Linked DNA regions of Homo sapiens. The protein of the gene in region 1 purifies or fractionates together with the protein of each later gene. This does not show direct contact. Each region holds a gene or a part of one and is shown in the gene's direction. Other genes may lie near its edges.

The links.
Region 2: the proteins of ERGIC1 (region 1) and ITGA2 fractionate together in Homo sapiens (co-fractionation; one large-scale study listed by BioGRID). This does not show direct contact.
Region 3: the proteins of ERGIC1 (region 1) and GOLGB1 fractionate together in Homo sapiens (co-fractionation; one large-scale study listed by BioGRID). This does not show direct contact.

Annotation. Positions count from the first base shown.
Region 1 is NC_000005.10:172,920,392-172,925,869, forward strand, and holds part of ERGIC1 (endoplasmic reticulum-Golgi intermediate compartment protein 1), read left to right. Parts: coding exon of another isoform or gene 1-93; exon of another isoform or gene 94-1,135; coding exon of another isoform or gene 1,136-1,234; exon of another isoform or gene 1,235-1,696; coding exon of another isoform or gene 1,697-1,712; exon of another isoform or gene 1,713-1,911; intron 1,912-3,613; coding exon 3,614-3,718; intron 3,719-5,478. UniProt on the Homo sapiens protein: Possible role in transport between endoplasmic reticulum and Golgi.
Region 2 is NC_000005.10:53,090,352-53,092,815, forward strand, and holds part of ITGA2 (integrin alpha-2 precursor), read left to right. Parts: intron 1-167; coding exon 168-248; 3' UTR 249-2,464. UniProt on the Homo sapiens protein: Integrin alpha-2/beta-1 is a receptor for laminin, collagen, collagen C-propeptides, fibronectin and E-cadherin. It recognizes the proline-hydroxylated sequence G-F-P-G-E-R in collagen.
Region 3 is NC_000003.12:121,666,242-121,669,741, reverse strand, and holds part of GOLGB1 (golgin subfamily B member 1), read left to right. Parts: intron 1-386; coding exon 387-530; coding exon of another isoform or gene 531-545; intron 546-1,583; coding exon 1,584-1,681; intron 1,682-2,131; coding exon 2,132-2,266; intron 2,267-3,500. UniProt on the Homo sapiens protein: May participate in forming intercisternal cross-bridges of the Golgi complex.

The DNA of each region.
Region 1 (5,478 bases):
TTTGCGTGTTTTGAGCAGCAGCGGCAGCCTCACCAGAGACCCCACGGTGACCTCGTTTCATCAGCCAGCCCCGCAGGAGGAGGACAGGATGGGGTGAGGGGTATGGGGCCTGGCTCCAGCTATATGTTTTTAAAATCCATCAGAGACACTGACGTAGGTTCCTAAGTCACAGGCTCTAAAAGCGTTGCTGTTTCTTTCTTCAGCCCAGCATGTGCTGGCATGAGTCAGCCACCTGTGATGGATTTGGTGTGGAGGGGGAGTGGGTTCCTGAGTCACAGCCTCGCACGGCCCGGCAGGGGTGGCAGGTGCTGAGGGGACAGCCTTCTTGACTCACTTCACTCCCGGAGCACGCGGCCCAGGCCCCAATCCCAGTTCTGAACTCTGCCATGGCCCGATCTGCGGAAGGCCCTGTGTCACTGCGTAGAAAACCTCTGGGAGGACACACGCCTTATGGCTGTGGGTTTCTTACTCCCAGGGGTGGTCAGCAACAGGGTCTTTAGTCTGACTGTGTCTCATGACTGTTTTATCATGAAAATGTACCCAGGCATTATTTTTATCGGTGAAAATGAGGCATAAATGTTAAAACCCACAGTGGGCTTTTCCTCACGCCCTGCCTGTGAGTGTTCCCTCTTCCGGGAGGGCCCTTCTTGGTTGGCTCCGATGACAAACATGTTCACCCTACAAACCCGATCTGAGGCCAGCTGCGGGCTGCTTTGTATGCATCACCTCAATGAATCCTCCCAGTAATCTTCTGGCTTTACGCCCATTTCGCTGATGGAGAAACTGAGGCATGGAGTGGTTACTGACCTCGCCTAAGGCTCCCCAGCTAGGAAGTGGGGCTGGGCTTGGGGCCAAGTGTAGAACTCAGAGCAACCGCTCTACTATGGGTTATTGGGTCCCTGAAGCAGGCGATGCTGTCCCTCGAGGGAGATCTTGCCACGCCTTTGTTTCTGCTCCACTCCTGACCCAGCAAGTGTCCCTTCTCCACTGTAGCCTGCAGCTCGCTCCACTGCGAGTTTGCTGAGGCCGAGGCTACAGGCTGTCAGCTTGATGCCTCCCCTGTCAGCCACAAGCTCGGGCCCTGCTGAAGTAGGAATATTCCTGCAGGAAGTCCCCAACTTTGTGTTTGAAACAGACATGCTTACAAAATCAGACTTTGATGGGCTGCTGCACGATAAGCTATATTCCCTCCTCGGACACAGCTCGCACAGTCTTCTTCATTGGGCTGGAATAAGGTAACCCCCGAGTTTTTCAGTGTGGCATCTGGGGACCTTTGATAAACAGCCCCAACTCCTCCCTTGTGCCTCTTTGTTTCCTGCTGCTGCCAGCACCGCCACCTCCGTCTCATTTGGAGTTCAATAATACCAGACTCTTAGTTCCTTAGACAGCCCACATGCTGGGAAGTTTCTGTCCTCTGCACCTGTTCATGCTGTTCCCTCTGCCCAGATGCCTTTCGCTCTCTTCCTGAGTAATGCAGACTCATCTTCAGAGCCTTAACACAGGATGTCCTTCCCCCTGGGAAGCCCTCCCTGAATACAGCCTGCACCCTCAATTGAGCCGGGGGCCTTCCCTGTAACCCCCATGGTCTGCAAATTCCTCTGGGCCAGGGTGGATCCCACAGAGTCTCATTGTCTGTTCCAAGTCTGTGTCACAGGGGCTTGGCCAAGGCCAGATTCTTGTCTGCTCATCTCCCCAGTTCCGGCATCTCCTGAAGGACTGGCGCCATGTGGCCATCAGCCCAGGCTGCGGAGGTAGATGGCATCCAGGCATCAGAGGAGGGAGCAGTGCGTCCAACAGACGTGAGCTGAGACTGCAGCTCTCGACATGTGACCTTAGCAAGTTTCTTCACTGCTCTGAGCCTCCATTTTCTTTTCTGTAAAATGGGAATTATCAGATGACAAAGTCAAAGGATTCAGTGTTGTTTGTTTAGTCATTCATTCATTCAAAAAGTGTCTATTGAGCACCTGCTATGTGTCGGAGTCTGGGGAGCACAGCAGGGCGTGGACATGCTAATGGGAGGAGGCAGACGAGAACAGGATGGGTATGAGATGGCAGGTGATCCCAGAGGCTGTAGCAGGTAAGGGGATGGGGAATGGGGGCCAGGGTGCTCTTTTGCACAGGTGGACGTGGAGGGCCTCTCTGTTGGGCCCTGAGGGTCCGAGGGAGGGCCATGTGGAAGAGGGTCCCAGGAAGGGGTGCAGGCACAAAGGCCTAAAATGGGGCCACACTGGATGCTGTTCCCGGCACGGCAGGAGACCAGACAGGAAGCAGCAGAGGACACAGCAGCAGGAGGCCAAGCGGTGGGGACACGATGCTTGGCCAGCGGCCAGATGTGGCCTGTGGGCCACCACGAGGACATGGACCTGGACTCTGAGAGAATAGAAGCCGTGGAGGGTTCTGGGCAGAGGAGTGATGAGATCTGATGTAGGGTTTAAAAAGATCTTAACAGTCATTATTGGGAAAAGGCCCAGGCTGTGGGGAACATGGAAGCTGGGAGCCCAGGGAGGAGCCTGCCATTGTTGTCCATGAAGAGACGACCTTGGACCAGGGCAGCAGAGAAGAGGTCAGGCGCCAGGTGTGTTTGGAAGGTGGAGCTAACAGGGTTTCAGCTGATGGATGGGACGTCGGGAGTGAGAAAGGGGGGTTCCAGGATCATACCAAGGGTTCTAGTCTGAGCATCTAGGAGGAGGAGGAGGAGGAGGGTTCCAGGATCATACCAAGGGTTCTAGTCTGAGCATCTGGGAGGAGGAGGAGGAGGAGGGTTCCAGGATCATACCAAGGGTTCTAGTCTGAGCATCTGGGAGGAGGAGGAGGAGGAGGGTTCCAGGATCATACCAAGGGTTCTAGTCTGAGCATCTGGGAGGAGGGAGGAGGGTTCCAGGATCATACCAAGGGTTCTAGTCTGAGCATCTGGGAGGAGGAGGAGGGTTCCAGGATCATACTAAGGGTTCTAGTCTAAGCATCTGGGAGGAGGAGGGGGAGGAGGGGGAGGAGGAGGGACTTCGTGCTGAAACAAGGAGAAGCTGCAGTGGCTCCTGCCACATGGTTGTCACCAGCATCCTTTGTTCTGTAAATACTCATCCAGCACCTCTTGCTGGCTTGGCTCTGCGAGGGCTTGAGACCCAGGGAAGAGATGAGGCTACCACAGTCTGTCCATCAGGGATCCCCCGTCTAGGGCACTGGGGCAAACTTGGGTAGGAAATGATAGGGGTTTGGAGTCTGAGGAATCCCCATTAGTCTGCAAGCTCAAAGGTCATCCCCCAGCTGACTGTGGGGTCAGCCGCCCAGAATCCACAGAGCTGGAGGGGGAGCAGCTGCCATGAGTCCTGGCTTTGTGCCCGTCGCCCAGATGGGCACTTCACATGCACCCTCTCACCAGATAGTCCTGGCAGCCCCCTCGGAAGCTATGGTAGTGCCCCCATTCTGCAGATGAGGAGCCTGAGGCCCAGAGAGATGGGGTGACTCCTTTGCACAGTTGAAAATGATACAAGCAGGATCCAAACCCAGATCTGCCTGATTCCAGTGTCCTCCCTGGATCACACAGGGTGAGGCCCCAATGTTCCGCCCCCTGGAGAAGTCAACCAAACTCCTGAAACTCACATTTCTCCCCCAGGTCCCCGGCAACTTCCACGTGTCCACACACAGTGCCACAGCCCAGCCACAGAACCCAGACATGACGCATGTCATCCACAAGCTCTCCTTTGGGGACACGCTACAGGTGAGCAGGGGACACTCGAGATGGCATGGCCGGGGGTGGGCCTTCAGGGGCTCTGTCACCCAGTGCCCTCTGCCCTCTCTGGGCACTAGGAAGAGTTACCGTTAAGGTGACATCTAAGCCAAGCCTGGAAGGGTAAGAAGGGTTTCACCAGGAACAGAACAGGGAAATGGGTCCTAGGCAGGGGGCGTCTCAAACATCACCCCTCTCCTAGAGCGCCCAGCTGGTGGTTTTCATGTGAAAGACCCTCAAGGTTACTTTCAGAAAAATGGATCAGTAAGCGTATGTGACACGGCATGTTCTGTGCCGAGATGGTCCAGGGCACAAGGGCTCGCTTGGCAGCTGAGAGGGCCCAGAGCACTTGCCTGAAATGGGAGCCGGCAGGTGGGGTGTGTGGGGTGCGAGAGACCCGTGGTAGACTGAGGAAGGTGGAGACTGAAGGTCTGGTTGGTGACTCAGAGCACCCATCTGCAATGAGGAAGATGGACCCAGGAGGCAAGACTATAGGCAGGGAGGTGAGGGAAGGGCCCAGACCGAGGCAGGTGGAGGGGAGAGGAGCAGCGGTCTCGCATTGCCACGTGCAGGGGCAAAACAGAAGGACACAGAAACTACAGTCCCAAGTTTAGTCATTAGTGGGGTGGAAATCTGATTTTTTTAAAAAAATGTACAGAACTTAGCTTAGGGCCCATCCATCCATTCATTTTCTGTCCATCCATCTAGTCAACAAATATTTACAAAGTACCTACCGTGTCCAGGCCTTGCATACCTTGGTGAGGACAAACATGGTCCCTGCCCACCTGGAGCTTCCAGTCTAGGGGGGAAGACAGATGTTGATCAAATAATGGTACAGGCCAGGTGCGGTGGCTCACTCCTGTAATCCCAGCACTTTGGGAGGCTGAAGCGGGCGAACTGCTTGAGGTCAGAAGTTTGAGACCAGCCTTGCCAACATGGTGAAACTCTGTCTCTACTAAAAATACAAAAATTAGCCGGGCGTGGTGGCAGGCACCTGTGATCCCAGCTACTCAGGAGGCTGAGGCAGGAGAATCACTTGAACCTGGGAGGTGGAGATTGCAGTGAGCTGGTATCATGCCACTGCACTCCAGCCTGGGAGAAAGAGTAAGACTCCTCCCAAAAAAAGAAAAAATAAAAATAAAAATAAATGGTACAAATAAATGTGAGATAAAGCCATGTCACATGACAATGGAAGAGAACATTCTAGCCTTCTTGTCTCTGTAACCACCGTTCTCATGGGTTAGAAATGAAGCCTTCACACGGTCAGTCTCAAGACAGCAAATAGACAAACTTCCTTTTCCTTGTTGAGAAATTGCAGTTCCTTCCAGTTGTTGAGGAATTGCTTGTTGAGAACATGCAGGTGTGTTAAGTGCTCAGTAAACATCAGCCGCCTGAGACCAGGATCAGGGATTATGCCACCCCGCTGCTGCCCACTGCTCCTGGAGTGGCCACAGAATCATGTCCCCACGTACCTCTCCGATGTCTCCTCCTTCCTTCTATTCAAACACCTCACTCTCCTTCCTCCTGGGGGCCACGTGGGCCTGTCTCCATACTTAAGCCTTTGTACATGCTGCTTGCCAGTTTAACTTCCCACTTTCCTCCAGATCTTGGTGTCAATGTCATTTCCTCCAGGAAGGCCTCCAGGGTGTCTAGCTCGATAACCCCTGTTAACCATGCCCATGGTAGCATGCTCCATTTACCAGGTATGCCTTGTCCTTCTTTAGATGTTCCTTGAGGCCAACCTGGTTTCC
Region 2 (2,464 bases), about 120 Mb from region 1:
TTTCCTTCTAGCAGGTGGTAGATATCAGGTCATCAGTCTGCACACCTCCCTTCAGAGCCTCAGGGATTCCCAGAGGTGCATCAGAGGACGTGGGCAGCCAAGGGGGTCAGAGGCACCTTACAAAATAAGCCACGGGTGGTAACATTCTTATATCATCACCTTTACAGCTCGGCTTCTTCAAAAGAAAATATGAAAAGATGACCAAAAATCCAGATGAGATTGATGAGACCACAGAGCTCAGTAGCTGAACCAGCAGACCTACCTGCAGTGGGAACCGGCAGCATCCCAGCCAGGGTTTGCTGTTTGCGTGAATGGATTTCTTTTTAAATCCCATATTTTTTTTATCATGTCGTAGGTAAACTAACCTGGTATTTTAAGAGAAAACTGCAGGTCAGTTTGGAATGAAGAAATTGTGGGGGGTGGGGGAGGTGCGGGGGGCAGGTAGGGAAATAATAGGGAAAATACCTATTTTATATGATGGGGGAAAAAAAGTAATCTTTAAACTGGCTGGCCCAGAGTTTACATTCTAATTTGCATTGTGTCAGAAACATGAAATGCTTCCAAGCATGACAACTTTTAAAGAAAAATATGATACTCTCAGATTTTAAGGGGGAAAACTGTTCTCTTTAAAATATTTGTCTTTAAACAGCAACTACAGAAGTGGAAGTGCTTGATATGTAAGTACTTCCACTTGTGTATATTTTAATGAATATTGATGTTAACAAGAGGGGAAAACAAAACACAGGTTTTTTCAATTTATGCTGCTCATCCAAAGTTGCCACAGATGATACTTCCAAGTGATAATTTTATTTATAAACTAGGTAAAATTTGTTGTTGGTTCCTTTTAGACCACGGCTGCCCCTTCCACACCCCATCTTGCTCTAATGATCAAAACATGCTTGAATAACTGAGCTTAGAGTATACCTCCTATATGTCCATTTAAGTTAGGAGAGGGGGCGATATAGAGAATAAGGCACAAAATTTTGTTTAAAACTCAGAATATAACATGTAAAATCCCATCTGCTAGAAGCCCATCCTGTGCCAGAGGAAGGAAAAGGAGGAAATTTCCTTTCTCTTTTAGGAGGCACAACAGTTCTCTTCTAGGATTTGTTTGGCTGACTGGCAGTAACCTAGTGAATTTCTGAAAGATGAGTAATTTCTTTGGCAACCTTCCTCCTCCCTTACTGAACCACTCTCCCACCTCCTGGTGGTACCATTATTATAGAAGCCCTCTACAGCCTGACTTTCTCTCCAGCGGTCCAAAGTTATCCCCTCCTTTACCCCTCATCCAAAGTTCCCACTCCTTCAGGACAGCTGCTGTGCATTAGATATTAGGGGGGAAAGTCATCTGTTTAATTTACACACTTGCATGAATTACTGTATATAAACTCCTTAACTTCAGGGAGCTATTTTCATTTAGTGCTAAACAAGTAAGAAAAATAAGCTCGAGTGAATTTCTAAATGTTGGAATGTTATGGGATGTAAACAATGTAAAGTAAGACATCTCAGGATTTCACCAGAAGTTACAGATGAGGCACTGGAAGCCACCAAATTAGCAGGTGCACCTTCTGTGGCTGTCTTGTTTCTGAAGTACTTAAACTTCCACAAGAGTGAATTTGACCTAGGCAAGTTTGTTCAAAAGGTAGATCCTGAGATGATTTGGTCAGATTGGGATAAGGCCCAGCAATCTGCATTTTAACAAGCACCCCAGTCACTAGGATGCAGATGGACCACACTTTGAGAAACACCACCCATTTCTACTTTTTGCACCTTATTTTCTCTGTTCCTGAGCCCCCACATTCTCTAGGAGAAACTTAGAGGAAAAGGGCACAGACACTACATATCTAAAGCTTTGGACAAGTCCTTGACCTCTATAAACTTCAGAGTCCTCATTATAAAATGGGAAGACTGAGCTGGAGTTCAGCAGTGATGCTTTTAGTTTTAAAAGTCTATGATCTGGACTTCCTATAATACAAATACACAATCCTCCAAGAATTTGACTTGGAAAAAAATGTCAAAGGAAAACAGGTTATCTGCCCATGTGCATATGGACAACCTTGACTACCCTGGCCTGGCCCGTGGTGGCAGTCCAGGGCTATCTGTACTGTTTACAGAATTACTTTGTAGTTGACAACACAAAACAAACAAAAAAGGCATAAAATGCCAGCGGTTTATAGAAAAAACAGCATGGTATTCTCCAGTTAGGTATGCCAGAGTCCAATTCTTTTAACAGCTGTGAGAATTTGCTGCTTCATTCCAACAAAATTTTATTTAAAAAAAAAAAAAAAAGACTGGAGAAACTAGTCATTAGCTTGATAAAGAATATTTAACAGCTAGTGGTGCTGGTGTGTACCTGAAGCTCCAGCTACTTGAGAGACTGAGACAGGAAGATCGCTTGAGCCCAGGAGTTCAAGTCCAGCCTAAGCAACATAGCAAGACCCTGTCTCAAAAAAATGACTATTTA
Region 3 (3,500 bases), on another chromosome or scaffold:
TGGAGATTATAGTCATTTGTTAGTACCATGAACTTTGACCCTGAGGTACTGCCTTCTCCCTCTTATGTACCCAGAATAGCCTATGTAATTAGATTGCTTATGGACTTCTGCTTCATGGTTTTTCAGTTAATGTACTGGGCACCATTTAAAAAAACAAAACAGAACAAAACAAAAAAACCTTTCTGCTACTCCTCCAGAATTGTTTTCTGTCTTGGTCAAAAAAAAATTATGCTTTTTCCAACTTTGAAGGCACACAAAGTGCTATTGTTGCTGTTGCTGAAACAAAGGTCTTCCATAGGAAAATTAGATCCTGAAAACTCAGAACATTTCACCTCAGCACTGCTTACAGTACTGCAGGATGATGCTTATCCTCGCCTCTGTTTCAGTTCTCTCAGCTACTGGAAGAGAAAAACACCCTTTCCATTCAGCTCTGCGATACCAGTCAGAGTCTTCGTGAGAACCAGCAGCACTATGGTGACCTTTTAAATCACTGTGCAGTCTTGGAGAAGCAGGTTCAAGAGCTGCAGGCGGTGAGTAAAGAGAAGGTGAGAGACTGGGAGAAGTGTGATGAAATTTAGTGCAAGTGGTGAAGCACTACAGAGCAGTATGGAAGAAGTTAATGTAATTAGGGGTCAGGGAAGAAAGTGGGAGAGAAGAAAGAGTTAATTGAGATGGGAATAAGGTCTGAGAAAAATTACAGTGAAGCAATTAGAAGAAAAAAGATCAGTGAGATGGTGGGAGAGAAATCAAAACATGAGTAGGAAACAGTGATGACTGAGACATTTGGTACTCTGAAACAGAGAAAGTGTTGATTTTGCTTTAAGTTATAAGAAAATTGTAGGAAACTTTGGATCTGAGAACAAAACAGGCAGCACTGTTGACAGCCAGGGAGAGGAGTACAGCATTGAAGTTGGAGGAGACTGAGAATTAGTATGGAGACGTATAGGATACGGAGGAGGAAAAGGGGGTTGGGAGGGGCTGGACAAGCAAGGGAAGGATCAAAGTGGCTTCTGGAAAAGCCATAAGCATCCACAGCAGACTTAACTTTTTTTTTTTTTTTTTTTTTTTTGAGACGGAGTCTCGCTCTGTCGCCCAGGCTGGAATGCAGTAGCACGATCTCGGCTCACTGCAACCTCCACCTCCTGGGTTCAAGCAATTCTCTGCCTCAGCCTCCCGAGTTGCTGGGATTACAGGCGCCTGCCACCACACCCGGCTAATTTTTTGTATTTTTAGTGGAGACAGGGTTTCACCATCTTGGCCAGGCTGGTCTTGAACTCCTGATCTTGTGATCCACCCACCTCGGCCTCCCAAAGTGCTGGGATTACAGGCTTGAGCCACGGCGCCCGGCCCAGACTTAACTTTTAAGAGGAGAAATTCAAGAATGAGAATCTGGGAGAAAAATCTAATCAAGACAAGAGTTTTATGTAGGTGAGTAATCTGCTAGAGCAGAAGCTTCTCACTTCTAAATTTGGACTTGAGAATTATAAGCGGGGATAGTCCTCTGTAAACGAGCTCTCATTTTGCTCAAATACACTTTCTTAAGAGCTTTCATCACTGAATTACTAAGCTTATTCTTCTTCCAGGGGCCACTAAATATAGATGTTGCTCCAGGAGCTCCCCAGGAAAAGAATGGAGTTCACAGAAAGAGTGACCCTGAGGAACTAAGGGAACCGCAGCAAAGGTAGGGGAGTGGCTCTCTAAACCCTGGAGCATACACCAGAGTCCAGAAATTGGGCAGTAATCTAGATTTAACTGGAGTCCTTTATATGGATTTAATATGTCTTGTTATCTTATTAGCCTCACAGAAGTGATGTGAGGATCAAATAGTAACAATAATAACTAACATTTGTGTGTGAAAAGTTTGTAAAACAAAAAGAGCAACACCAACACACACACACCACTAACAACTACTCTATGATAGTAAAATGAAAGATAATCAGTTCCTGAAATTTCTTTAGGTATTTTCTGCAGCTTCATTTAATCCCTCTACAGCTTTGCTTTTAAAATATTGTGTTTAGACAAGCTTCTATGGATTTTCTTGCTTTACAACCTTATGAAGACTTTGAATCCCTTGTATTAGCAACTGTTTTCTGCATCTGATGATGCTTTTTGTTTTCCTCTCATCCTAAAGCTTTTCTGAAGCTCAGCAGCAGCTATGCAACACCAGACAGGAAGTGAATGAATTAAGGAAGCTGCTGGAAGAAGAACGAGACCAAAGAGTGGCTGCTGAGAATGCTCTCTCTGTGGCCGAGGAGCAGATCAGACGGTAAAGGCTGAAGGAGATAGCCTCTGTTCCCTTCCGATCCTTTCTGATCAAACTCATGTACATTTCCTGCCAGACTTAGGATTTCTTAAGATCTTTTTCTCATCTTGAGGTAGTTGCTGCAATGAGTTTACCAACATTGTGGTCACCCAAGAGAACACTGTACTTTTGGAGTATAAGAGAGTCAGTGTTTTCTAAAACAGTTGTTCTTAGAGAATAATAATGATATCTACCATTACTGAAAGATATTTTATTTCACCCTAACCATAACTATATGAGGTAGGTGTTGGGTTCTCTAGAGGACCAAATAAGTGACAACCTCATTTTCTACCTGAGATCTGAATCCATGGAAATCTTTTTTAAAAGATTAAAAGATTGAGAGATTAAAAGACTGCTTTATAAATGATGTTAAAAGAATGTAGCTTTTTATTTGTTGGCAAATGCACTTCCTAACCCTGAACTTCCCCTCCCAGTCACAGACAATGTTGGGCCAAGGTAGACCTCCTTCACAGAAAATCCTGCTCTTGCCAAACAAGAGTATTGGAATAACAGAGTGAACTGTGCTTCCTATGAGCAGTTTGCTCCAAGTGTAATTTGGAAGGGCAGAGCTACACATCCCTAGTTCCTTATTCTCATCAAAAGAATCACTATGCATGAGAGGATAGAGAGTTGCTACAAGTATTTTGCTGCTGGAAGTCCCTTTCCACGGAAAATATCGTTAAAAGCAGGCACTTTTATTATATTTTGGGAGAAAGCCACCTATGTATATGATCACTTTCCTCAGAGAATGACATTTCTGATATTAATGCTTTCTTGTAAAGTTTATGTGGCAGAGGTGACAGCCCCATTGAGCAGGTCTTACTTGAGATACCTTTCTTTCCAATCCAACATATTCACAACTTCTTAATTTTCATCACCTATTCAGGCCTTGATATGCAGCTTTGAGGGTGGGCCAGCTTTGCTTAATGCCTTGTGTGGTGTCTTGCCATCTCTGCCGAGCATTTTCAGGCCTGTGCCCTCATGACTGTTTCTCTTCTACTTGCTATTGAATTGTTTAGACCGGTGAAACCTGGCCAATGGGGAGGTTGATCTCCCTCTTGTGTAACTAACCTGTCCCAAACCAACTGAGACTGCATGTGTGGGATGATGACTCTTGAGCCTGTGGGCAAGCCGTATTAATTCAAGCCACAATTCCCTCTTTAGCTCTGATGCAGAATGGAAGTTGGGGTAGCTAATT